3 separate regions of the Homo sapiens genome follow, and all the other regions are linked to region 2. The links come from fine-mapping of genetic effects on gene expression. A gene starts in region 2. Each other region holds a variant in brackets. All regions are shown on one strand. Distances are from middle to middle. Region 1 overlaps ATP6V0A1 (ATPase H+ transporting V0 subunit a1). Region 2 holds the start of ATP6V0A1 (ATPase H+ transporting V0 subunit a1). Region 3 overlaps ATP6V0A1 (ATPase H+ transporting V0 subunit a1).

Region 1 (8,000 bases), 43 kb after region 2:
GGTGGCGAGCACCTGTAATTCCAGCTACTCGGGAAGTTGAGGCAGAGAATTGCTTGAACCCAGGAGGCAGAGGTTGTAGCGAGCCGAGATCATGCCACTGCACTCCAGCCTGGGCGACAGAGTAAGACTCCATCTAAAAGAAAAAAAAAAAAAAGAAATCATTGTTAATGCATTTACGTGTGATGACAATATTGTGGTCATGTTTTAAAAATAAGTCCTGGCCGGGCGCGGTGGCTCACGCCTGTAATCCCAGCAATTTGGGAGGCCAAGGCGGGCGGATCATGAGGTCAAGAGATCGAGACCTTCCTGGCTAACATGGTGAAAACCCCACCTTGCAATAGGCCGAGATTTCACCACTGCACTCCAGCCTGGGTGACAGAGCGAGAGTTCATCTCAAAAAAAAAAGAAAAAAAAAAAAAGCCTTACTGGCCGGGCGCAGTGACTCAAGCCTGTAATCCAAGCAGTTTGGGAGGCCGAGGCAAGCCTCAGGCCAGACCTGAGGTCAGGAGTTTGAGACCAGCCTGGCCAACATGGTGAAACCCCATCTCTACTAAAAATACAAAATTAGCTGGGCATCGTGGCCTGTGCCTGTAATCCCAGCTACCTGGGAGGCTGAGGCAAGGCAGGAGGTGGAAGTTGCAGTCAGCGAGATCATGAACACTGCACTCCATCCTGGGCAAAAAGAGCGAAATTCCATCTCAATAAATAAATAAATAAATAAATAAGTCTTTTCCTTTTAGACATCCACACTGAAATATTTACAGGTAAAATGACATGATATCTGGACTTTTTAGTAATGTGGAGATGAGTGAGTGGCAGTAATCTTTTTTCATGACTATAAGGTGATGTTAATTTTTGAAGCATTCTCCTCAAAAGCAAGATTAAAAAAAAAAATTTTGTCGAAGCAGAGTGATAGGTGCCTGGGAGTTTGTTGTACCATCCTGTCTGCTTAAGTATCTGTTTAGAATTTTCCATAATAAATAATATTGATTAATAAATAAAAATTGTCGACCGGGCGCGGTGGCTCACGCCTGTAATCCCAGCACTTTGGGAGGCTGAGGCGGGCGAATCACGAGGTCATGAATCGAGACCATCCTGGCTAACACGGTGAAACCCTGTCTCTACTAAAAATACAAAAAAATAGCTGGGCGTGGTGGCAGGCACCTGTAGTCCCAGCTACTTGGGAGGCTGAGGCAGGAGAATGGCGTGAACCCGGAAGGCAGAGCTTGCAGTGAGCTGAGATCACGCCACTGCACTCCAGCCTGGGTGACAGAGCGAGACTCGTCTCTAAATAAATAAATAAATAAAAATTGTTTTTTAAACAGAGGAATATTTTTCCCTTTGAGAATTCTTTATAATACCTATTTGTTTTCTCGGGTTATGACAGATTTGGAACATTGCTACCAATAAACTGACGTTCTTGAACTCCTTTAAGATGAAGATGTCTGTTATCCTTGGTATCATCCATATGCTGTTTGGAGTCAGCCTGAGTCTGTTCAACCATATGTGAGTTGTTCCATTTCTGTCATAAGAATGTGCATAGTTTAGAGAATGCTTTTGTGTAAAGAAATCATGACATCTTTGGGGAGGGATTAATAACTCAGAACCTCATTCTACATTATAGAAGTGCTTTTCTAAAAATTTAATGGTGTGGCCAGGCGCGGTGGATCATGCCTGTAATCCCAGTACTTTGGGAGGCCAAGGCCGGTGGATCACCTGAGGTCAGGAGTTCGAAACCAGCCTGGCCAACACGATGAAACCCCGTCTCTACTAAAAATACAAAAATCAGCCAGGTGTAGTGGCACGCGCCTATATTCCCAGCTATTCGGGAGGCTGAGGCAGGAGAATTGCTTGAACCTGGGAGGCAGAGGTCGCAGTGAGACAAGATGGCACCACTGCACTCCAGCCTGAGCGACAGAGTGAGACTCTGCCTCAAAAAAAATAAATAAATAAATAAATTTCATGGTCTGGCCGGGTGCAGTGGCTTACACTTGTAATCCAGCACTTTGGGAAGATGAGGCGGGCAGATCACTTGAGGTCAGGAGTTCAAGACCAGCCTGGCCCACATGGTGAAACTCCGTCTCTACTAAAAATACAAAAAATTAGCCGGGTGTGGTGGCGTGCACCTGTAATCCCAGCTACTCTGGTGGCTGAGGCAGGAGAATTGCTTGAACCCAGGAGGCAGAGGTTGCAGTAAACCAAGATAACACCACTGCACTCCAGTCGGGGTGACAGAGCAAGACTCCATCTCAAAAAAAAAAAAAATGTTGATGGTCTTAAATTAGACTTAATATTAGTCCTTTAACAATTTACTGTTCCAGTAAAGATCCTTGAAAAAAACTTGAGCAATTTTCATCAAAATAAGTGAGGTCTCTTTTTTTCCTTGATGTGCAACTCACATAAAATTATTAGCTGTGGACTGGGTGTGGGGGCTCACACCTGTAATGCCAGCACTTTGGGAGGCCAAGGCAGGCGGATCACTTGAGCCCAAGAGTTCAAGACAAGCCTGGGTAACACGGCAAAAGACCCCATCTCTACAAAAAAAAAAAAAAAAAAAAGTTATGAACTGTGGTCTCAAAATGTACTAGATTTTTCCATTCTCTTTCTCATGGAGAGAATGGTGGGGATGGTATTGGAGCCGTTCAAGGTTCAAAAGTTTAAGGCCTGGCACAATGGCTCACATCTGTCATCCTGCACTTTGGGAGGCCAAGGCGGGCAGATCACCTGATGTCAGGAGTTCAAGACCAGTCTGGGCAACATGGCAAAACCCCATCTCTACAAAAAAATGTAAAAATTAGCTGGGTGTGGTGGCGCATGCCTGTAGTCCCAGCTACTCGAGAGGCTGAGGTAAGAGGATTGCCTAAGCCCAGGGAGGTTAAGACTGCGGTGAGCCAATATTGCACCACTGTACTCCAGGCTGGGTAGCAGAGTGAGACCCTGTCTCAAAAAAGAAAAAGCAACAGCAAAACAAAACCAAGGTTCAAAAGTTTGACCGTGATAGTTAATCCTGCATTGTCTCTGTTGTCTCCAGCTTCTGGTTGCTGCTGCTTAAAGTGATAAAGACAGAATTGAGGGGGTATTAAGTAGAAAAATCTAGTGAATACTCCATTCAGTGTAGGAGTGGCCCTAGGCCCATTTACCCTTAACATTTTTTTCTCTCTCCTTTTTAGCTATTTCAAGAAGCCCCTGAATATCTACTTTGGATTTATTCCTGAAATAATCTTCATGACCTCTTTGTTTGGCTATTTGGTTATCCTTATTTTTTACAAGTGGACGGCCTATGATGCTCATACCTCTGAGAATGCACCAAGCCTTCTGATCCATTTCATAAACATGTTCCTCTTTTCCTACCCAGAGTCTGGTTATTCAATGTTGTATTCTGGACAGGTACGTCAGCCCAGAGGCAGACTGTCTGAGATGATTATACTTGATCAGGAAGCCAGATGTTTCTCTGACCCTAAAAAATTTATAACTGCCCTTCTATGGGACAATTCTAGGGCTTTGCCACAAAATGTGATAATTATTTTGAGAAATTGGATAGTGTTATTCATAGATTAGTAAGAAAGTACTGTTGGGGGAAATTTGTGCCATATTTGGAAACTGCGTATGTGATCGGTAGACTTTTATATGATGTACCTTGTCCTTCTTCTTACTCTGCAGAAAGGAATTCAGTGTTTCCTGGTAGTGGTTGCACTACTGTGTGTACCTTGGATGCTGCTGTTTAAACCATTGGTCCTTCGCCGTCAGTATTTGAGGAGAAAGCATTTGGTAGGTGTATTTCTATTGCTAAAAGTTACTAGACTTTTGTTTTGTTCAAGATCAAGGCAATTCCCCAGTGGATATAATTAATTGTGCACAAATCTATATATTCTTTTTCTTTTTCTTTTTCTTTTTTTGAGACGGAGTCTCGCTCTGTCCCCCAGGCTGGGGTGCAGTGGTACGATCTTGGCTCACTGCAACCTCCACCTCCCAGGTTCAAGCAATTCTTTTGCCTCAGCCTCCTGTGTCACTGGGATTATAGGTGTACGCCACCACACCTGGCTAATTCTTGTATTTTTAGTAGAGACGGGGTTTCACCATGTTAGCCAGGCTGGTTTCGAACTCCTAACCTCATGATCCGTCCACCTTGGCCTCCCAAAGTGCTGGGATTACAAGCGTGAGCCACCATGCCCGGCCACAAATCTGTATACTATTAAAACGCATTTGTGGCCGGGCGCAGTGCCTCACTGCTGTAATCCCAGCACTTTAGCACTTTGGGAGGCCGAGGTGGGTGGATCACTTGAGGTCAGGAGTTTGAGACCAGCCTGGCCAACATGGTGAAACCCCATCTTTACTAAAAATACAAAAATTAGCCAAGCGTGTTGGCGCGTGCCTGTAGTCCCAGCTACTTGGGAGGCTGAGGTGGAAGGATCGCTTGAATCTGAGAGGCGGAGGTTGCAGTCAGCCAAGATTGTGCCACTGTACTCCAGCATGGGGACAGAGTGAGACTCTGTCTCAAAAACAAAAAACCAAACAAACAAAACGCATTTGTGTTATGTCCCAGCACGAGCACTGGGCCTGCCAAGTCAGAGAAACATGTCTGCTGCTCAAGATATCTGGATTCAGCTTTGAGTAGCTAGAGGAGAGAAAAGTCACAAATTTTTACCTTTCCTGGTCATGCTTTTGCTCACGCTGCGCTCAGGAAAATGTAGGCCTATGCCTGTCTAGATGTAGCATCAGCCAAAGCCAAGCAAAGCTGCAAGAGCTGCAGATGGGTGAACTCACTCATGCGGTTTGCCTGGGCAACCACAGGACTGACATTGAGACATTTTCCTTTCA[A/G]ATGAGACTGTGATAACTTTCACTGACCAAAACATCTGGGAAAAAGGTTTGGTTTAAAGCACGTTGATTTTTTTTCTTTTTAAAAAGCAGCATATGTATATACGTTTACTTAATGTCTGTGTGTATATGAATTCTGCGCGCGCACACACACACACACACACAGAGTTAAATTTGCGAGATGTTCAGTATCATGCATAATTTCTGGGTATCCAATAGCACTTACTTTACACTGCCTGGGAAAACCCAAACGATCTTGTTGCATGACTCTTAAACGGCTGTTAGATGATGACTCCCGTGGAGAGCAGCTGAGTTACAAGACCCTCCTTCTCCCTTTTCTGACCATCTTCATCCTTCCATGTACCCTCCATTTGTCTCCCCACTTCACTCCCTCCCTCTTTTGTTTTCTTTCCCCTTCTTCTTTTCTTCCATTCACTATCAGGAAGGGCAACCTGTGGAGGCCCCAGTCAGCCCAAACCCGAGCCAACAGGGACTAGAGGCAGCAGCGGCTGCAACAGTGAGTGAATTAAAACCAACAAACCATCACATTTCATTTAAAGAGGTGGCAAACAGTGCAGCAGAATTCTTTTTAATTAAATTGAGAGCATGGGACATGTGTACTTTTGGGAAATATGTCCTTGTTACTCACTGAGATGATGACAGAAGTTCCACCTCTTAAGAATAGATTCTGGCATCATCTTTAGCATTGGTCTACTAAGTTTCTATTCAAAAATGTAAGTACAGGCATGTCCATGGCAACAAAGTGGCTTGTTGTACCCTCACTGAGTCCCATCATCTTAATCCAAGATGACAGCTCTTGGACTCACCCACTTTCATGTCTGTATTTTGTGACCATGTATTGGATGATTTTTCAGCATGGAAGCGAGAATATCTCTGTGATTCTTGAATTGATTTCCCTGCACTTTAGAGTTCTACTTTAGAGTGATGCTTGGACATTTGATCTTTTTTAGTAGTAACTTACCTTCTTTTTGAAAGTGAAAGTTTATACATGTTTAGTTTTTTGTGAGAAACTCAGAAGACCTCACATGTCCTCAGCTGTTCCAGTGAGACCTCTGCTCTCCGATGTGTCGTGTGTACTGTCATCTGGTGTCATAACCAAAGTGATCTGTCTTGATCCTTCCCTCTTCTGATACTAATTCAAGATTCAGTAACAGCACTTTGAATATTTGTCCTTAAAAACATCTTTTAAACAAAATCTTACAATGCACAAATATATTAGCCTAATATATTCTAAGTTATGAATGAATCTATAAGATTGTAAAAGTCTCACCAGTAGTGATTACGCATTACTTCTATGTGCTCGAAGCATATACTTCTTTAAATAAAATGAAAGATTTAGATGGATAACCATTTCCTTCATTAAGTGTTTCTGATGATTTTAAACTTGGAAAATTTCTTATGGTCATCCTTCTGGAACTAGTCTAAGTCATCCTTCTGGAACTAGTCTAAAAGGGCTGACATTTTGAGTCAGAAAAAATTTTAATCTTGCTGCTTAAAATACATTTTCAAGTAGGGACTTCCCTGTGAGACATTTAACAAACCTTTAGAACACATACTACCTATTGTCAATGTCCTTAACACATACTCTTTTTTCTGCTAGTCTTAGCATATATAAGATGTGCTTCTGACAAGATCTTAATGCATTTAAGTCTTGCGACTTCTTCTGTGATAAATTCTAAGTTAAAAGTTCCCCGTTTGGAAACCTGCACATTCATAGGGTCTTCTTACCCCACTGGTTCTTTAGCCAAACATCTGTTCCTGGAGAGCAGCCTGAAGGCATCAGGATGATCAGTCTACAAGAAAGTCTCTGGATTTTTGACCCCAGAGGGCTGAGGATATGAACAGTGATCTGGTTTTGTTCTGTTCTTTGTCCCCTTGGTTGTCTGTGAGTGATATATCACAGTTTAATTTTTCTTTTCTTTTTTCTGCTGACATGTGTCTCTCATCCCCCTTCCTGTAACTCTCATTCCTGTGTTCTGAAGAGATCATTATTAGTGTCTGGCTGGGAGATTTAACCTGTCTGCTCCTCAGTTTATCTGCTAGTTGGAGAAAGCTTCAGAAATGGCCTTCTACTTTGGGAGCCTTGAACCTTGAAGCCTTCCTCCTATATCTTATAACCCAGCCGAGGTTATGCAGGAGTCCCCTCCTGTGCCCTTCGTTGCATTTTCAGTCCACCTTCTGAGGGTTGCCAGGTGGAATATGTGCATGACCTGGAGGTGTCCAGGCTCTGGTGGCCCACAAGTCTGACTGCACATCACAGTCACCTGGTAGACTTTGAATTTGTTTCTTAGGGTATTAAAACAAATAAGTGGAAGAAGAAATAAAAGTGGCCCATAATTTCATGGTCCTGACAATCCCCTACTGACATTAAAAAAATAAAGCAATAGGTGCACTTGGCTAGAGAATGCATATAGTGCTAACTAAGAAGAAAACCACCTGCCCCCACTACAGTCCTCCTCTTCAGGGGGCATTGTTAACAGGTGGGGGCCTTGCCTCTGACAGATATCTGCCTGTCTTCTATTGATAGGTGTGTGTGTGCTCTATGCATCTAGAAAAAGACACATGAGGAATTGTGTTTTAAACTGTGGCACTGTTCTGCCTCTCGATCTATTACGTTTTTTAAAAGTTAGTGTATCTTGAAGATTGTTTCATAGTGATAATCACTTTTTTTTTTTTTTTTCTGAGATGAAGTCTTGATCTGTCACCCAGCTGTAGTGCAGTGGCACGATCTCAGCTCACTACAACCTCCACCTCCCAGGTTCAAGCAATTCTCCTGCCTCAGCCTCATGAGTAGCTAGGATTATGGGCATGCACCACTACGCCTGGCTAATTTTTGTTTTGTTTTGTTTTTGAGATAGAGTCTTGCCCTGTCGCCCAGGCTAGAGTGCAGTGGCACGATCTTGGCTCACTACAACCTCCGCCTCCCCAGTTCAAGCAATTCTCCTGCCTCAGCTTCCTGAGTAGCTGGGATTACAGGCACCCACCACCTCCCCCGGCTAATTTTTGTATTTTTAGTAGAGACAGGGTCTCACCATGTTGGCCAGGCTGGTCTTGAACTCCTGACCTCGTGATCCACCTGCCTCAGGCTCCCAAAGTGCTGGGATTACAGGTGTGAGCCACTGTGCCTGGACTAATTTTTGGATTTTTAGGAGAGACGGGGTTTC
Region 2 (8,296 bases):
TGCAGTGGCTCACTCCTGTAATCCCAGCACTTTGGGAGGCTGAGGCGGGTGGATCACTTGAGGCCAGGAGTTCGAGACTAGCCTGAGCAGTATGGCGAACCCCCGTCTCTACTGAAAATACAAAAATTAGCTGGGCGTGGCGGTGCACACCCGTAATCCCAGCTACTCAGGAGGCTGAGGCAGGAGAATTGCTTGAACCTGGGAGGTGGAGGTTGCAGTGAGCTGAGATTGCGCCACTGCACTCGTCTGGGCGACAGAGCAAGACTCTATCTCAAATAAAAAAAAAAAGACATATAGAAGAAAGAATACCATGTGACGATGGAGGCAACAATTGAAATGATGCATCTATAAGCCAAGGAACACCAAGGATTTCTGGCAACCACCAGAAGCCAGGAAGAGGGAAGAAAGGATTCTTTCCCAGAGCCTTTGGAGATACCATGCTCTGCAGACACCTTAATTTCAGACTTCTAGCCTCCGCTGTGAGAGAATAAATTTCGGTGTTTTTGTTTTTTTGAGACAGGGCCTCACTGTGTCACCCAGGCTGAAATGCAGTGGCTCAATCACGGCTCCCTGCAGCAGCATCAACCTCCCTGGCTCAGGCTCAAGCCATCCTCCCACTTCAGCCTCCTGAGTAGCTGGGTCTACAGGCACGTGCCACCATGCCCAGCTAATTTTTTTTTTTTTTTTTTTTTACAGACGTGGGTCTTGCTGTGTTGTCCAGGCTGGTCTCAAACTCCTGGGCTCAAGCCATCCTTCTGCCTTGGCCTCCCAAAGTGCTGGGATAACAGGAGTGAGCCACCGTGCATGGCCGATTTCTGTTGTTTTTTGTTTTTTTGAGACACAGTTTTGCTTTTTCATCCAAGCTGGAGTGAGGTGGCGCAAACTTGGCTCACTGTAGCCTCTGCCCCCTGGGTTCAAGTGATTCTCCTGCCTCAGCCTCCCAAGTAGCTGAGACTACAGGCGCCCACCACCATGTCTTGCTAATTTTTGTATTTTTAGTAGAGATGGGGTTTCCCCATGTTGGCCAGGCTAGTCTCGAACTCCTGACCTCAGGTGACAGGCTGGCCTCGGTCTCCCAAAGTGCTAGGATTACAGGCGTGAGCCACCTCGGCTGACCTGATTTCTGTTGTTTTAAATGCTACCCAGGTTGTGGTTATTTGTATGGCAGCCTTAGGGAAACGAATACTGGAAGCCTGTGGAGAAGACACTGGAGCAGATACGTATTTCAAAACACCGGGCTTAACGTTAAAACTCTCCTCTAGGCCCCATCTAGGAATCTAAGTGGGATAAGCTAAGATGAGCTAGCTGATTCTTCACTGGTGGAAATTTGGACAATTGACACGCATTCATTCAAACTAAAAATTAAAGATAAAAAACCACATTTAATAATTTCACTACAGTGACAATTCTTGTAACATTTTGAGACTCTATCAGTTAGATCCCTACCTCTGTTCTATTCTTTTTGTGGTAGTGAAGAACTAATCTTTATAACTGTTTTTTTTTTTTTCAGACTCAGTTTTGCTCTTATTGCCCAGGTTGGAGGGCAATGGCGCGATCTTGGCCACTGCAACCACCGCCTCCTGGGTTCAAGTGGTTCTCCTGCCTTAGCCTCCTGAGTAGCTGGGATTATAGGCATGCACCACCATCCCCAGCTAATTTTTTGTATTTTTAGTAGAGATGAGTTTTCACCATGTTGGCCAGGCTGGTCTCAAACTCCCGACCTCAGGTAATCCACCCGCCTCAGCCTTCCAAAGTGCTGGGATTACAGGCGTGAGCCACCACACCTGGCTTTAATTGTTTTTTAGCCATTTTCACAAATGCTAGGGAATAGCTCGGTTTAGATACTCGGAACTGTGTCACTGGCCAAGCCTCATATGGAATTGCTCATGTCTTCTAGGGCTGTAGGTGTGGTCAACAGCATTTTAAATTTGATCTTATTGGACATATGCCTCAGTTTTACCATATCATCTGTTATATGGGGATAATAATAGTAACTGCCTCCTAATGTTGTTGTGAGGATTAAATGAGTTTGTATTTACCAAGCATGTAGAAAAGTGCCTGGCACATAGTAAGTATTAATCACTGCACTCCTCTCTCTCTTGCCATTTGGGAAGTTTCTTTCTCACTGAACCATGAGCTCTCCAAGGATAAGAAGCATGTCTGTTTCATTTTCTATCCCCAGCACCTAGTACCCCTCTCTGGCACACAGTAGGCCCTCAGCAAGCATCTGCTGCCTAAAAGGCACTATCAAGCAGGCAGTATGAAATTCCATTTCTGAGTCTTGAAGAAGGAAGTCAGGTGGAAAAACAGATAAGAGTCCTACACATAAACGTTTAAGCTTGACAACACTCAAGACCATCAAGGAAGACAGCATGGAGGGAAAATAAATAGAACACTGAGGAAAGATTGATGGCAGGAGATGGAAGCAAACAGAAAAGGAGTTCTGAAACAATATTCTTTCAAAGAAGCCGTGAAAAGAGTTCAAGGGAATTGAAGTAAGTCCACAGGAAAGGCTGTCTTAAAAGTGGAGTATGAAAAATTTGTGGTTAGCAAGCAGCTGACTGAGGTTAATTTTTTTTTAAGTCTCAGAGGAAGGAAATGATATTGTGTAACAGTTTTCTCTAACTTGGCAGGCTTTTAAATGTGGGTCCCGATCTGTCTTGCCAGAAGGGTTGAGAGCTAGGGAGCAGGGAGAAGGAGGGTATGGGTCTCTCCAAGACTCTGTGTCTTAAGAAGGTTGTATTGAAGTCAGGTTATATCTTCACTCACAATATGAGACAATAAATTCAAATAAAACGTCCATTTTTGTCCCCTTATTTTGTTTAGGCTGGTAAAGCAGGTTTGATGATGTTTTTGTCAGGTTGACAAAATTATCAGCAACAAGTTTTTATCTGGAATATCTCCCTCATTACACTTGAATTTCAACAGGGTTCCACCACCCAGGAAGACAGAATAACCGGTTTTCTGAGTTTTTCCTGATACAATTCTGGTTATCACAAACGACTTGAGATCCCTACTCTTCTTTAAAAGGGCAAGAAAAGGGAATCAATATCAATATTTGATAATGGCATTTAAAAAATAATAGACATCACTTTTGCGTTTAAAAAATGTTTTTCAATATTTAATTTACAAGTTGAGTACAAGCCATAAAAAATGTTTTTAAAATAAATTTGAGGAATTGAAAACTCCTAAGTGGTCAATTGAGCCCACATGAATCTACCAAACAAGACTGAAATGTACTTTCACAACATATGGTCTGATGAGGTTTTTCCTGTTAAACAGAGAAAAATAGACCCGGGGAAGTTGCTGGAAGGCATGAACCATGTACCATTTAAAGAGAGGTTTTCCATACTTATGCAAATGAGACCCCGTTAAAGACTCTACTACAGGATCTAAAGCTAGCCGCTCCCCAGTCTGGGGCTCAAATGTTCTCATCTGTAAAATAAGGGAAAAGAGAAAGGGTGGTATATGTGTCTGCGTATTAATTATTTGAGTGTGTGTGTGAATTCTTTGGATATGAAAATAAAGAGAGAAGACATTAATTATTTGGGTGCGTATGTGTGAATTAATTCTTTGGATATGAAAATAAAGAGAGGGCCGGGCGCGGTGGCTCACACCTGTAATCCCAGCACTTTGGGAGGCCGAGGCGGGTGGAGGCCAGGACCAGTCTGGGCAACATGGCGAAACCCCATCTCTACAAAAAATACAAAAATAGCCGGGTGGCGTGGTGCGTGCCTGTAATCTCAGCTACTAGGGAGGCTGAGGCAGGAGAATCCCCTGAACCCGGGAGGCGGAGGCTGCAGTGAGCCGAGAACGCGCCACTGCATTCCCGCCTGGGAAACAGACCATCTAAAAAAAAAAAAAAAAAAAAAAAAAAAAGGCCGGGCGTGGTGGCTCACGCTTGTAATCCCAACACTTTGGGAGGCCGAGGCGGGTGGATCACGAGGTCAGAATTCGAGACTCAGCCTGGCCAACATAGTGAAACCCCGTCTCTACTTAAAAAAAAAAAAAATACAAAAATTAGCCGGGCATGGTGGTGCGTGCCTGTAGTCCCAGCTACTTGGGAGGCTGAGGCAGGAGAATCGCTTGAACCCGGGAGGTGGAGGTTGCAGTGGGCCGAGATCACGCCACTGCACTCCTGCTTGAGCAACAGAATGAGACTTCAAAAAAAAAAAAAGAAAGAGAAAAGACAACCTACCCCAGTATAAGGGGTAAGAAAAAGGATTCAGGGAGGCTCAGGAACTTAAGGCCTCGAGCACCTGCACCTCCAGCCCCACCCGCTAACCCTCCCCAGCGTGGAGATACAGCACAGGGGCCAACATGGCGTCAGCACGCTGGGTCTCGCCTGCGACCCCCGTGACTCCGCACTGCTGCAGCCCGGGCGAGGCTGCGCCCCATTGGCCAACTGCAATGAGGTCATTGCGGGGGCGGGGGCCGGCGGCGGCGCAGGGGCGGGGCTTTACGGACGCAAGCACGTCGAAGCGCTGCTCCTGGAGCCGCGGAGGGTGCGGGTTTGGCTGCGGTGGTTTCTGTGGCGGTTGCTGTGGCGGAGTTTGGAGGTGAGTGGGGGCTGTAGGTTTAGCGCAACAGGGAGCGGCCCTCGATGGACGTAGGAAATCCTTCTAAGAGCCCCCTTGATTGTCAGAGGAATTAGCGGGGATCTGACGTCTTCGAGATAAAATGGGGGTTCGCCCCCTCCTTGGGCACCCCTCCTCTGCCCTGAGGAACCGGAGGCTCACTGCCCTTTGGAAGCCCCGCATCTCTTCCCTGCTTTAAGGGGTAGGCGGAGGAACCGGAGGTTATTGGATAGGCAGAAGAATTTAGGGGGCTTCTTAAAGGGTTTCTCAGTTTGGGGGTTTTCCTCTCCTTTTTTCCCATCTCAAGGTAGATGAGCCTGAGTCCAGAGAATTCCTGCTCATTGGGTAGACAGGAAATGAAGCAGGTGAATACCGTGGGAGGAGGCGAGGACCGGATGACAGGAGTGAGATTCTTCTAGGCAGGGCGCGGGGGCGCTGTAGTTGGACTCATCTTTTGCAGAATTGCTGTTTCTTCATATTTTGTTTTGTGATCGTCCAGAACTACTTTGGCCTAATTAGTTTTCTGTTAGCCTCCATTGCTATAGAGATATTCTTGGGAGACCTATAATCATTAAAGAGCAGGAGGACGGAGGCGACTCGTTGGAGGCTTATCATTATCCACAGCTCCTGAACTATGCTGACCAGGCCTAATTTTATGTGTTTAGAGGTTGTAGAATCTCTCTTTGTTTAAGGGTGGTGCCGGTAACAGCTGATTTGGATGATTCAGATGTACAGAATCTTAAAGTCAGCCTGCATATTCTCTTGAGAAGTCCTTGCTTATGTCTGAGCTTGTGTTACTGTCTTGAACATCACATGCACAAAGGTTTGTTCGTTCAGATTTCTCAAAATGTCTCCCAGCCTTCCAGAAGAGTAAATCTTCCTTTGATGTCAGACTCATCTATCAGTACTCAGTATAGATGCCCTTATGACACTAAAAATACTGTGCATTTTTCTGAGTTTGGATACTGGACAGGCTGTGCCTTACATTAGCTGATCGAGAATAAATAATTGCAGTTTCAGGACCACTGATAGCGCCAGTTGTCTCATACCCGGCAACAGTAAGACAGCACTAAAACGAAACCTTTATTGGCTCATGAGATTTGACAGATGGAAGAATGTAATTAATCTTGAAGGTAGGGTTGAGAAACAGAAAGCTGCAGAGGTGGAAGGCTTATTCTCTGTGGCTTGATAAAACTGCTTTGTCATTATCAGTGTGTTCCTGTCATGCTTGATTTGAAATTGAGCTTAATATGCAAACTGGTTGCTTTTTCCAGATGACGGTTATTTGTTTGAATTCCTAAGTGGGGAAATATTGTTTTCTGAGGAATCTGGAAGATTAAACCCTTTAGTGTAGCCATAGCTTTAGGATAGTGCCAGAACTTTGGGCTTTTAGAAATGCGCATTGTCAGTAGAAGGGAGAAGGATAGTTACAAGGCAGACATCTTTATGAGAGGGTATTGAAGGCCTCTTCTGTTTGTTTCCTGCACTAGCAAAAACAGATTGAGCAGTGTGAAACTCACTGCCTCAATATTGTGTCCTGGGTATTTAAAGAGTTGTTTGAGGTTCCCAGTTCCTGTCTTTAATCTGGATACATTCTTATCAGTTGAGTTGCCCAAAATAATTGTCATTTGATCCTGATGTTGACTGGAATGGAAGTGACTTTTCATCTGACACTCTGTGGGACAGAATTCAGGAACTGCCTTTGCAATTTCTCCTTTCCATCTTTCTAGACAGGGTGTCAAAAACAGTTGTTGACCTGTCCTCATGGGGTGTTAGAAATGTAAATGCAAGAGCCGTAGTGGGGTGTCATTTGCTCTTAGCCCTCGTGGTAATTTCCAAAGTTATGTCATTTTCTCTTTGCTTCAGGTTGGAGAGAAATCCAGGTACTCACTAGACTGGTACCTTCTGCCACCATGGGGGAGCTTTTCCGGAGTGAAGAAATGACACTGGCCCAGCTTTTTCTACAGTCAGAGGCTGCTTATTGTTGTGTCAGTGAATTAGGAGAACTTGGAAAGGTTCAGTTTCGTGACGTAAGTAGTTGTGGGGCTGCGACTTGATTACTGCTGAACTCTATTGCTATCGTGGTCAGATGCCTTATGATGAATGTTTTGTTTTTTATTTGCAAAAATAACATTATAGCACTGACTTCCTATTGGCAGAATGCACATTTTGAGTTGTCTTTCTAAAGGTGAGAATGTTTTGTGCCAATCTTTACATGCTTTTGCTAGCTCCCACTTTCAGAACAGTCCTAAGCATTCTCCAGGTAATTGTTTGGGATGCAGGGAGAGGTTACCAAACTAACCTGATCAAGGCTTTCACTTGCTAAATAGCAAGGTATTTAAAAAAATATATTGCAGTTTTTCCATATAGTAGGACATTTTAAAAAAAATAAAATTTGAGGTATCCAGCTACAGATATATAGTATATAAATAAGCATATACTGAATATTCATTATTTTGGAATATTATACTGGGCACTTGGAGAAGCTATCTAAAGAATATGGACAATCTAGCCTGGGTACAGTGGCTCACGCCTATAATCCTAACACTTTGGGAGGCTGAGGCGGGCGGATCGGGAGGTCAGGAGTTTGAGATCAGTCTGGCCAACATGGTGAAACCCCGACTCTACTAAAAATACAAAAAAAATTAGCATGGTGGCGCAGGCCTGTAATCCCAGCCACTCGGGAGGCCGAGGCAGGAGAATCGCCTGAACCTGGGAGGCGGAGGTTGCAGTGAGCCGAGATTGTGTGATTGCACGCAGCCTGGGCGACAGAGCAAGACTCCGTCTCAAACAACAACAACAACAACAAAAAACTTGTCATCCTTAATTTGCAGTTCTTCATCTGGTCCTATGTTGTCCCTCTGCTTAACATCTATTGGCTCTATTCAGCCTTCTTTTCTTTTACTTATGCTGTACTTCAGTCATACAAAAAAAAGAGATAGGGGCCAGGTGCAATGGCTCACACCTGAAATGCCAGTACTTTGAGAGGCCAAGGCAGGAGGATCGCTTGAGCCCAGGAGTTGGAGACCAGTCTGGGCAACATAGGGAGATCCCGTCTCTGCCAAAAAAAAAAAAAAAAAAAAAAATGCCGGATGTGGTGGCACATGGCTGTGGTCCCAGCTGCTTGGGAAGCTAAGGTGGGAGGATCGCTGAAGCCCAGGAGGTCGAGGCTGTAGTGAGCTGTGATTATGCCACTGCACTCCAGCCTGGGTGACAGAGCATGACACTGTCTCAAAACCAAAAAAAAAAAAAGAGGTGGGGGGAGTATTATAATGACCACCTATGTTTCTACTATCTGCTTAAGAGGGAAACATTCCGTGTATAATTGAAACCTCTGTTTCTCTTTGCTCCATGCCAGTCCTTTCTTCCACCCCAGAGGTAACCCGTACAGTGATTTGTTTTGCTTTTATTTCTCCTATGTGTGGTTTTTGTTGTTGTTGTTGTTGCTTTTCTTTTTGAGACAGAGTCCACTCTGTCGCCCAGGCTGGAGTGCAGTGGTGTGATCTCAGCTCATTGCAGCCTCCGCCTCCCAGGTTCAAGCAATTCTCCTGCCTCAGCCTCCTGAGTAGCTGGGACTAAAGGCATGCACCACCATGCCCAGCTAATTTTTGTATTTTTAGTAGAGACGGGGTTTCACCACATTGGCCAGGCTGGTCTCGAACTTCTGACCTCTGGTGATCCACCCGCCTCGGCCTCCCAAAGTGCTGGGATTACAGGCA
Region 3 (8,000 bases), 30 kb after region 2:
ACTTCCATTTCTTTTTTCTTTTCTTTTCTTTTTTTTTTTTTTTGAGACAGAGTCTTGCTCTGTCTCTCAGGCTAGAGTGCAGTGGCGCGATCTCGGCTCACTGCAACCTCTGCCTCACAGATTCAAGCAATTCTCCTGCCTCAGCCTCCTGAGTAGCTGTGATTACAGATGCCTGCCACCATACCTGGCTAATTTTTGTATTTTTAGTAGAGATGGGGTTTTGCCATGTTGGCCAGGCTGGTCTTGAACTCCTGACCTCAGATGATCTGCCTGCCTCGGCCTCCCAAAGTCCTGGGATTACAGGTATGAGCCACCGTGCCCAGCCTGTAACTTCCATTTTAACTCTCAGTGACCTCCATCATATATGACCCACCAACCTGACCTATTGCTGGCTCCTTTGAGATACACTTAACCTGTTTAAGCAGAGAGAGAGAGTTTTAGAACTGCTGGTGAGTGATAGGCTATATTAGTATATTCTGGGTTCTAAGGCTGTCTTAATCTCCTTCCAGACCTATGGGTAGATTTAAAGAGCATATGTGGTAGTCATTATAACTGACCAGAATTTGATTTTTTAAAAATCTAGCTGTAGGAACTGAAAGTTTAAAAAGGGATTGAATACCAAGGAATGGGATGAGGAAAGAGAACGGCAAATAGAACATTGCTTGCTAGTTTCTTTAGCATCCTTCTAGAAGAAGGGTTTTTTGTGTTTTGTTTGTTTGTTTTGTTTTGTTTTGTTTTGTTTTGTTTTAAAGACAGATCTCACTCTGTCACCCAGGCTGGAATGCAGTGGCACAATCTTGGCTCACTGCAGCCTTGACCGACTAGGCTCAAACAATCTGTCTCAGCCTCCCAAGTAGCTGGGACTACAGGTGCCTGCTGCCATGCCCAGCTAATTATTTTTTGGTATGTTTTTGTAGAGATAGGGTCTCACTATGTTGCCCAAACTGGTCTGGAACTCTTGACCTCAAACAATCCTCCTGCCTTGGCCTCCCAAAGTGCTGGGATTACAGGAGTGAGTAATAGTAATTGTGAAATAGTCCACAACCAGAAGGAAAGAAAGTAGCTATCTTCAAGTGATGTGTTTCCTAGCATGACATGGCTTTGCTTTTAAAAACAAAGCAAAACAAAACAAAGGAAGTCACCTTCCTCTGCCCAAGACAATTTTTCAGGGAGTAGTTACTGCTTTGTTCTGAACTAACTTGAAGAATTGTCTATGATGGAGACTTGTGCTTTGGGTTGCTTGCCTAATTTCTTCCAGTTGGAAGCAACAGGCTTAGCCACACCTGCTATTAAAAACTTAAATATGGGCTGGACATGTTGGCTCATGCCTGTAATCCCAACACTTTGGGAGGCCGAGGTGGGTGGATCACGATGTCAGGAGTTCGAGACCAGCCTGACCAACATGGTGAAACCCCGTCTCTACTAAAAATATAAAAATTAGCCGTGCATGGTGGCGCGCGCCTGTAATCCCAGCTACTCAGGAGGCTGAGGCGGGAGAATCGTTTGAACCCGGGAGGTGGAGGTTGTGGTGAGCTGAGACCACGCCACTGCACTCCAGCCTGGGCCACAGAGCGAGACTCCATCTCAAAAAAAAAAAATTAAATATTTGGTATTAAGCCAGTGGAATGTAAAATGTTCCTGTACCTTCCTCCCACCTTAGTCTTGGCACTGTAATTCCTCTGAGGGAAATCTGTACTGATTTCAAAAGGATCAACACTGAACCATTTTTTCCTCTGATGAGAAGCCTGACATAAAGGTAACACCTTAGCTGCCCTCATGATGGCAGTGGTATGTGGCAGTCCAAGCCCCCTGTAAAGATCACAGGTGCTCCTGATCCCATGGCGTCTCCTGGCCCATGTTCCCAGTGTAGGCTGGTGGTGGTATTCAGCACTGCCTCTTTCCACCCTCTCCTGATGCTGGCCCATGTGCAAAGGATTCTGTGTGGATTTGTTAATTTGTCAGCTCCTGGGCTTGTGATGCCTACTGAGTTACATTCCCCACATAGAAAGTCGTTGCTCTTTAATAAGCCAAGTTAAAGGCAGTGACCTACATTTGTTGTGCCTTGGATTGGTGGTAAGATTGAACATATATAGAAAAGCTAAACTATTTTCTCAGGTTTCTTTTTAGGTTGAAGCTAAATAAAAGTGAATGTTAGTAACTAGAACTCTAATTTCTTGTAATTTGGAAAAAAGAAACCATTCTAGCCAGAGGAAGAAAAAGACAATTCCCTGGCAACTCTTTTCAGAAAGCTATGCCTCTTTGCCATTCATACCCTGAGATCTAAAACTGGTGTTAAAAGGATCCCTCGCTTGTTCCTTTTCTCCCCAAAGGTTCTGAATCAAACGGAGGATCACCGCCAGAGGGTTCTGCAGGCAGCTGCTAAGAACATCCGTGTCTGGTTCATCAAAGTGCGGAAGATGAAGGCCATCTATCACACCCTGAACCTGTGCAACATAGATGTGACTCAGAAATGCTTGATTGCAGAGGTCTGGTGCCCTGTCACCGACCTTGACTCCATCCAGTTTGCACTCAGAAGGGGCACGGTGAGTCCCCAAAGCTAACAATGCAGCTCGTGGCCCGGAAGAGAGGTTCCCATCAATAGTAACATTAATGTCATTTTTGGCCGGGCGCGGTGGCTCATGCCTGTAATCCCAGAACTTTGGGAGGCCGAGGCGGGCAGATCATGAGGTCAAGAGATCGAGACCATCCTGGCTAACACGGTGAAACCCCGTCTCTACTAAAAAATACAAAAAATTAGCCGGGCGTGTTGGCAGGCGCCTGTAGTCCCAGCTACTCTGGAGACTGAGGCAGAAGAATCAAGTGAACCTGGGAGGCGGAGCTTGCAGTGAGCTGAGATTGCGCCACTGCATTCCAGCCTGGGCAACAGAGCGAGACTCTGTCTCAAAAAAAAAAAATAATAATAAAAAATAAATAAATAGTAACATTAATGTCATTTTTATGGCATTTCACCTTCAGAGTTCTTCAATATATTTATTTGTCTTTTAACTTGACAGCACATTTCATACATAGCCTGGCATATAATATGTATATCATAGCGTAGCATAGCATATCTTTATTTTGCATATGTGGAGACTGCAGTTCAGAGAGCTGAAATAATTTGGTCATATGCCCATGATTCTTCAGGGTTGTTCATGGCCAGGGCATCAGTTTCCTGATGCCCTCTCTGTATATGACTGTTTCTGTTTAGTAGTTAATTAGAACAACTACTCTGTCCACAGAAGTGCTGTAAGTGCCTGGAGGAGTACAGAGATGTATAAAACATGCCCTCGAGTATCTTACAGTTTATTAGGAGAGTTCCAACTATGGAGTTGGAAAAAGCTTTAAGCAGGTGGCATTTGATCAGGTCTTTGAAGAATGATAAGTTGTTGGTAAGACTGCTGAATGAAGAGAAGAAAACAAAGGCAGGAAGTATGGTTAGACCATGTATGTTTGGACAAGAACAGGATTTACAGTGGGTTAGCTGAAGAGAAGTACCTGTCTGCATCAGGTAGTTTGGAACTTAATTGTGAAAGGTTCTTAAATAATAGCTTAGAAGATTTAAATTTTATTCCAGAGGAAGTTGAGAGACATTGGAAGTTCTTTAGGGGTAAAGGAACATGATCAAAGCAGTTTGGGTGGTTTTTTACATTTTTAATTTTGTGTTTGAGACAAGATCTTGCTCTGTTACCCAGGCTGGAGTGCAGTGGTGCCATCTCAGCTCACTTCAGCTTCCAACTCCTGGGCTTAAGCAATCCTCCCACTTCAGACTCCCGGTAGCTGGGACTACAGGTGCCCACCATCATGCGTGGCTAATTTTTTGTAGAGACAGGGTTTTGCCATGTTGCCCAGGCTGATCTCAAATTCCTGGGCTCGAGTGATCTGCCTTCCTTGGCCTTCCAAAGTGTTGGGGCCAGGCGTGGTGACTCACTCTTGTAATCCAGCACTTTGGGAGGTTGAGGCGGGTCATCACTTGAGGTCAGGAGTTTGAGACCAGCCTGGCCAACATGACAAAACCCCGTCTCTACTAAAAATACAAAAAAGTTAGCCAGGTATGGTGGTGGGTGCCTGTGATCCCAGCTACTCAGGAGGCTGAGGCAGGAGAACCACTTGAACCCAGGAGGCAGAGGTTGCAGTGAGCTGAGATCATGCCACTGCACTCCAGCCTGGACAGCAGAGTGAGACTCTGTCTCAAAAAAAAAAAAAAAGTGGGTCACCACGCCTGGTGGATCAAAGCAGTTTTTTTGTTTTTTGGTTTTTTTTTTTTTGAGATGGAGTTTTGCTCTTGTTGCCCAGGCTGGAGTGCAGTGGCATGATCTCGGCTCACTGCAACCTCCACCCTCCACCTCCCTGCTTCAAGTGATTCTCCTGCCTCAGCCTCCTGAGTAGCTGGGATTACAGGTGTGCGCCACCACACCCAGCTAATTTTTTGTATTTTTAGTGGAGACGGGGTTTCATCACGTTGACCAAGCTGGTGTCGAACTCCTGACCTCAGGTGATCCACCCGCCTCAGCCTCCCAAAGTGCAGGGATTACAGGCATGAGCCACTTCTCCTGGCTCAAAGCAGTTTTAAAAGAGTAATCTGCTGATAGTATCTAGGTTGGATTGAGGAGTGAAGAGATTCTGTAGGTAGGGGTTCAGTTAGGAGGTTATTGTAGACATAGAGTAGTA[AATG/A]ATAAGGATCCCCAGGTAGGACTTGACAATGGGAAAAAAAATGATGAATTGTGAGATGTTCTGCAGGAAAAATCAATAGGGCTACCTGGTTCCTAGCAAGGTGCAGGAGAAATACAAGGAGAAAGATTTAAACATCTTTTTGAGGCATCAAAGCTGACTGGCCAGGAGAATTAGGGTTCCAATGAGGGAAGTAAATGTTCAGCCAGAGAAGCTTATTGATTGGGGAGAGATGGTAAGTTCAGTTCCGGGCACATTGAGGTCTATGTGGAAATGTCAAGCAGACAAGGGAACAAAGCTAAGGAAATGGGAGTCATGAGAATGGAAGGGAATGAGACCTCCAAGAGGGAGGTCATAGAGAGAAAAAAAAGGTTGGGGTCTTGCAATGCTATGAGATAGGCAGAGCAGAAATAACCAGCAAAGATAGAAAAGCAATGGTCAGCGAGCAGGAGGAGAACTCCTAAGGAAGAAGGATTTTCACCAAAGATCTCCAATGTCAGGGGCGTGCATGGGGGAGAGAAGCTCTTTGGTCAGGAGCCAGTCACTTTGCCTAAGCATGCTCAGCCAGACTGCAAGGGATCAGGAAGTTAAGAGAAGGTAGTGAAGAAGGAGAGCCAGAGAACATACTTTGCTTTCTCCATGAAAGGGGGAGAACAACTTTCATAAAAAGGCAGATATGGAGGCAGTTCCACATTTTCTTTGGTGACATATTTTAAAGTTAAATTTTTTTCACATTAAGGATGTATTTCAGAGGATCTAATAGAAATCTTCCATTATAAATGTTATACCTTTTCCCAGTTTTCCCAAAAGCTGGGAAAGATAATCTAGTTTTATTTTTAGGTTTATTAGTTTTATTGAGATATAATTTACATGAAAGAAAATACATACATTTTATGTGTACCATTTGATGAGTTTCAAGAAATGTACACCTGTGTAACCACTACCACAATTAGGAGGATAACCTAAGTTTGATAAATGTGCTAATGTTTTTCAGGAACACAGTGGTTCCACTGTACCTTCCATTTTGAACAGGATGCAGACAAACCAGACTCCCCCAACCTATAACAAAACCAACAAGTTTACCTATGGCTTTCAGAACATAGTAGATGCTTATGGAATTGGAACTTACCGAGAGATAAATCCAGGTAAAAAAAAGCTTGTTATCTTTTTCCTCTAGAGTTTTTTTTGTTTGTTTGGTTGGTTTGGTTTGTTTTGAGACAGAGTCTCCCTCTGTCACCCAGGCTGGAGTGCAGCAGCACGACTGTAGTTCACTGCAGCCTCAAACTCCTGGCCTCAAGAGATCCTCCCAACTCAGTCTCCTGTATAGCTAGGACCACAGGCGCACAGCACCACACCTGGCTAATTTTTTATTTTATGATTTTTTTTTGACTGGGTCTCATTCTGTTGCCTAGGCTGTAGTGCAATGGTGAAATCACGGCTTACAGCAGCCTCAACCTCGTGGGCTCAAGTGATTCTCCCGCCTGAACCTCTGGAGTAGCTGGGACTACAGGCATGTGTCACCATGCCTGGCTAATTTTTAAAATTTTTTTAGAGATGGGTTTTGCTATGTTGCCCAGGCTGATAATTTTTAATTTTTTTTAGAGACGGGGTCTTGTTATGTTGCCCAAGCTAGTCTTGGACTCCTGGGCTCAAGGAAGCCTCCTGCTTCAGCCTCCCAAAGTGCTGGGATTACAGGTGTGACCCACTATGCCTGGCCTTTTTGTTCATTGTTTCTTCTAATGCCTCACTTTAAATGCTGTTGAATAACTGAATTAAAATTAAAGATGTTAATCCTAGCACTGTTTTTTTAATTTAATTTTATTTTTAATTTTTTTTGAGACGGAGTCTCGCTGTGTCACCCATGCTGGAGTGCAGTGGCGTGATCTTGGCTCACCGCAAGCTCTGCCTCCCAGGTTCACGCCATTCTTCTGCCTCAGCCTCCCGAATAGCTGGGACTACAGGCACCCGCCACCATGCCCGGCTAATTTTTTTTTTATTTTTTTTAGGTGAGACAGAGATTTACTCTCGTTGCCCAGGCTGGAGTGCAATGGCACGATCTCAGCTCACCACATCCTCTGCCTCCCAGGTTCAAGCGATTCTCCTGCCTCAGCCTCCCGAGTAGCTGGGATTATAGGCATGTGCCATCACGCCCGGCTAATTTTGTATTTTTAGTCGAGACGGGGTTTCACCATGTTGCCCAGGCTGATCTCTAACTCCTGACTTCAGGTGATCTGCCTGCCTCTGCCTCCCCAAGTGCTGGGATTACAGACGTGAGCCACTGCGCCCGGCCATTTTTTTGTATTTTTAGTAGAGACAGGGTTTCACTGTGTTAGCCAGGATGGTCTCGATCTCCTGACCTCATGATCCACCCGCCTTGGCCTCCCAAAGTGCTGGGATTACAAAGTGCTGGGTGGCGTGAGCCACTGCGCCCAGCCAATCCTAGCACTTTTAGAGGCCGAGGTAGGAGGATTGCTTAAGCCCAGGATTTCAAGATCAGCCTGGGCAACATAGTGAGACCCCATCTCTATTAAAAAATAAATAAACATGTTGACACCTCAGATCTTGTGTACTCCCTGTGAAGAGGTGCTCATTCTGGCAGGGCATGGTGGCTCACGCCTGTAATCCCAGCACTTTGGGAGGCTGAGGCATGTGGATCACATGAGGTCAGGAGTTTGAGACCAGCCTGGCCAACATGGTGAAACCCTGCCTCTACTAAAAATACAAAAATTAGCCGGATTTGGTGGCATGCACCTGTAGTCCCAGCTACTCGGGAGGCTGAGGCCTGAGAATCACTTGAACCCAGGAGGCAAAGGTTGCAGTGAACCGACATCATGCCACTGCACTCCAGCTTGGGCAACAACAAAAAGATGCCCATTTAATGTAAGGGGCAGGTTTACTGTCAGGTAGCGTTCCTTTAAGAGTTCATCGGCTGGGCCAGGTGTGGTGGCTCACGCCTGTAATCCCAGCACTTTGGGAGGCCGAGGCAGGTGGATCACCTGAGGTCAGGAGTTCGAGACCAGCCTGACCAACATGGAGAAACCCCGTCTCTACTAAAAATACAAAATCAGCCAGGCATGGTGGCTCTTGCCTGTAATCTCAGCGACTCGGGAGGCTGAGGCAGGAGAATCACTTGAACCGGGGAGACGGAGGTTGCCGTGAGCCGATATTGCATTATTGCACTCCAGCCTGGGCAAAAAGAGTGAAACTCTGTCTCAAAAAAAAAAAAAAAAAAAAGTTCATCGGCTGGGCGTGGTGGTTCATGCCTGTAATCCCAGCACTTTGTGGGGACAAGGTGGAAGGATCACTTAAGGTCAGGAGTTCGAGACCAGCCT

The links. PIP is the estimated chance that this variant, and not a neighbour inherited with it, causes the effect.
Region 1: its variant is fine-mapped to the expression of ATP6V0A1 in whole blood (INTERVAL, PIP above 0.99).
Region 3: its variant is fine-mapped to the expression of ATP6V0A1 in whole blood (TOPMed, PIP above 0.99).

The regions. Positions count from the first base shown.
Region 1 is chr17:42,497,537-42,505,536 of GRCh38, forward strand. ATP6V0A1 (ATPase H+ transporting V0 subunit a1) reads left to right here. Exons shown (of 22, transcript NM_001130021.3): 15 at 1,388-1,506; 16 at 3,171-3,387; 17 at 3,661-3,768. Among named protein-coding and RNA genes, the nearest start is that of MIR548AT, 6.8 kb to the left of the region's middle. The variant A/G (reference allele first, on the strand shown) is at 4,819.
Region 2 is chr17:42,454,405-42,462,700 of GRCh38, forward strand. ATP6V0A1 (ATPase H+ transporting V0 subunit a1) reads left to right here and starts at 4,474. Exons shown (of 22, transcript NM_001130021.3): 1 at 4,474-4,559; 2 at 6,444-6,607. The coding sequence starts at 6,491. RefSeq lists an enhancer at 4,094-4,183 and a silencer at 4,334-4,543.
Region 3 is chr17:42,484,825-42,492,824 of GRCh38, forward strand. It overlaps ATP6V0A1 (ATPase H+ transporting V0 subunit a1), which reads left to right. Exons shown (of 22, transcript NM_001130021.3): 10 at 2,331-2,543; 11 at 5,663-5,813. Among named protein-coding and RNA genes, the nearest start is that of MIR548AT, 5.9 kb to the right of the region's middle. The variant AATG/A (reference allele first, on the strand shown) is at 4,669.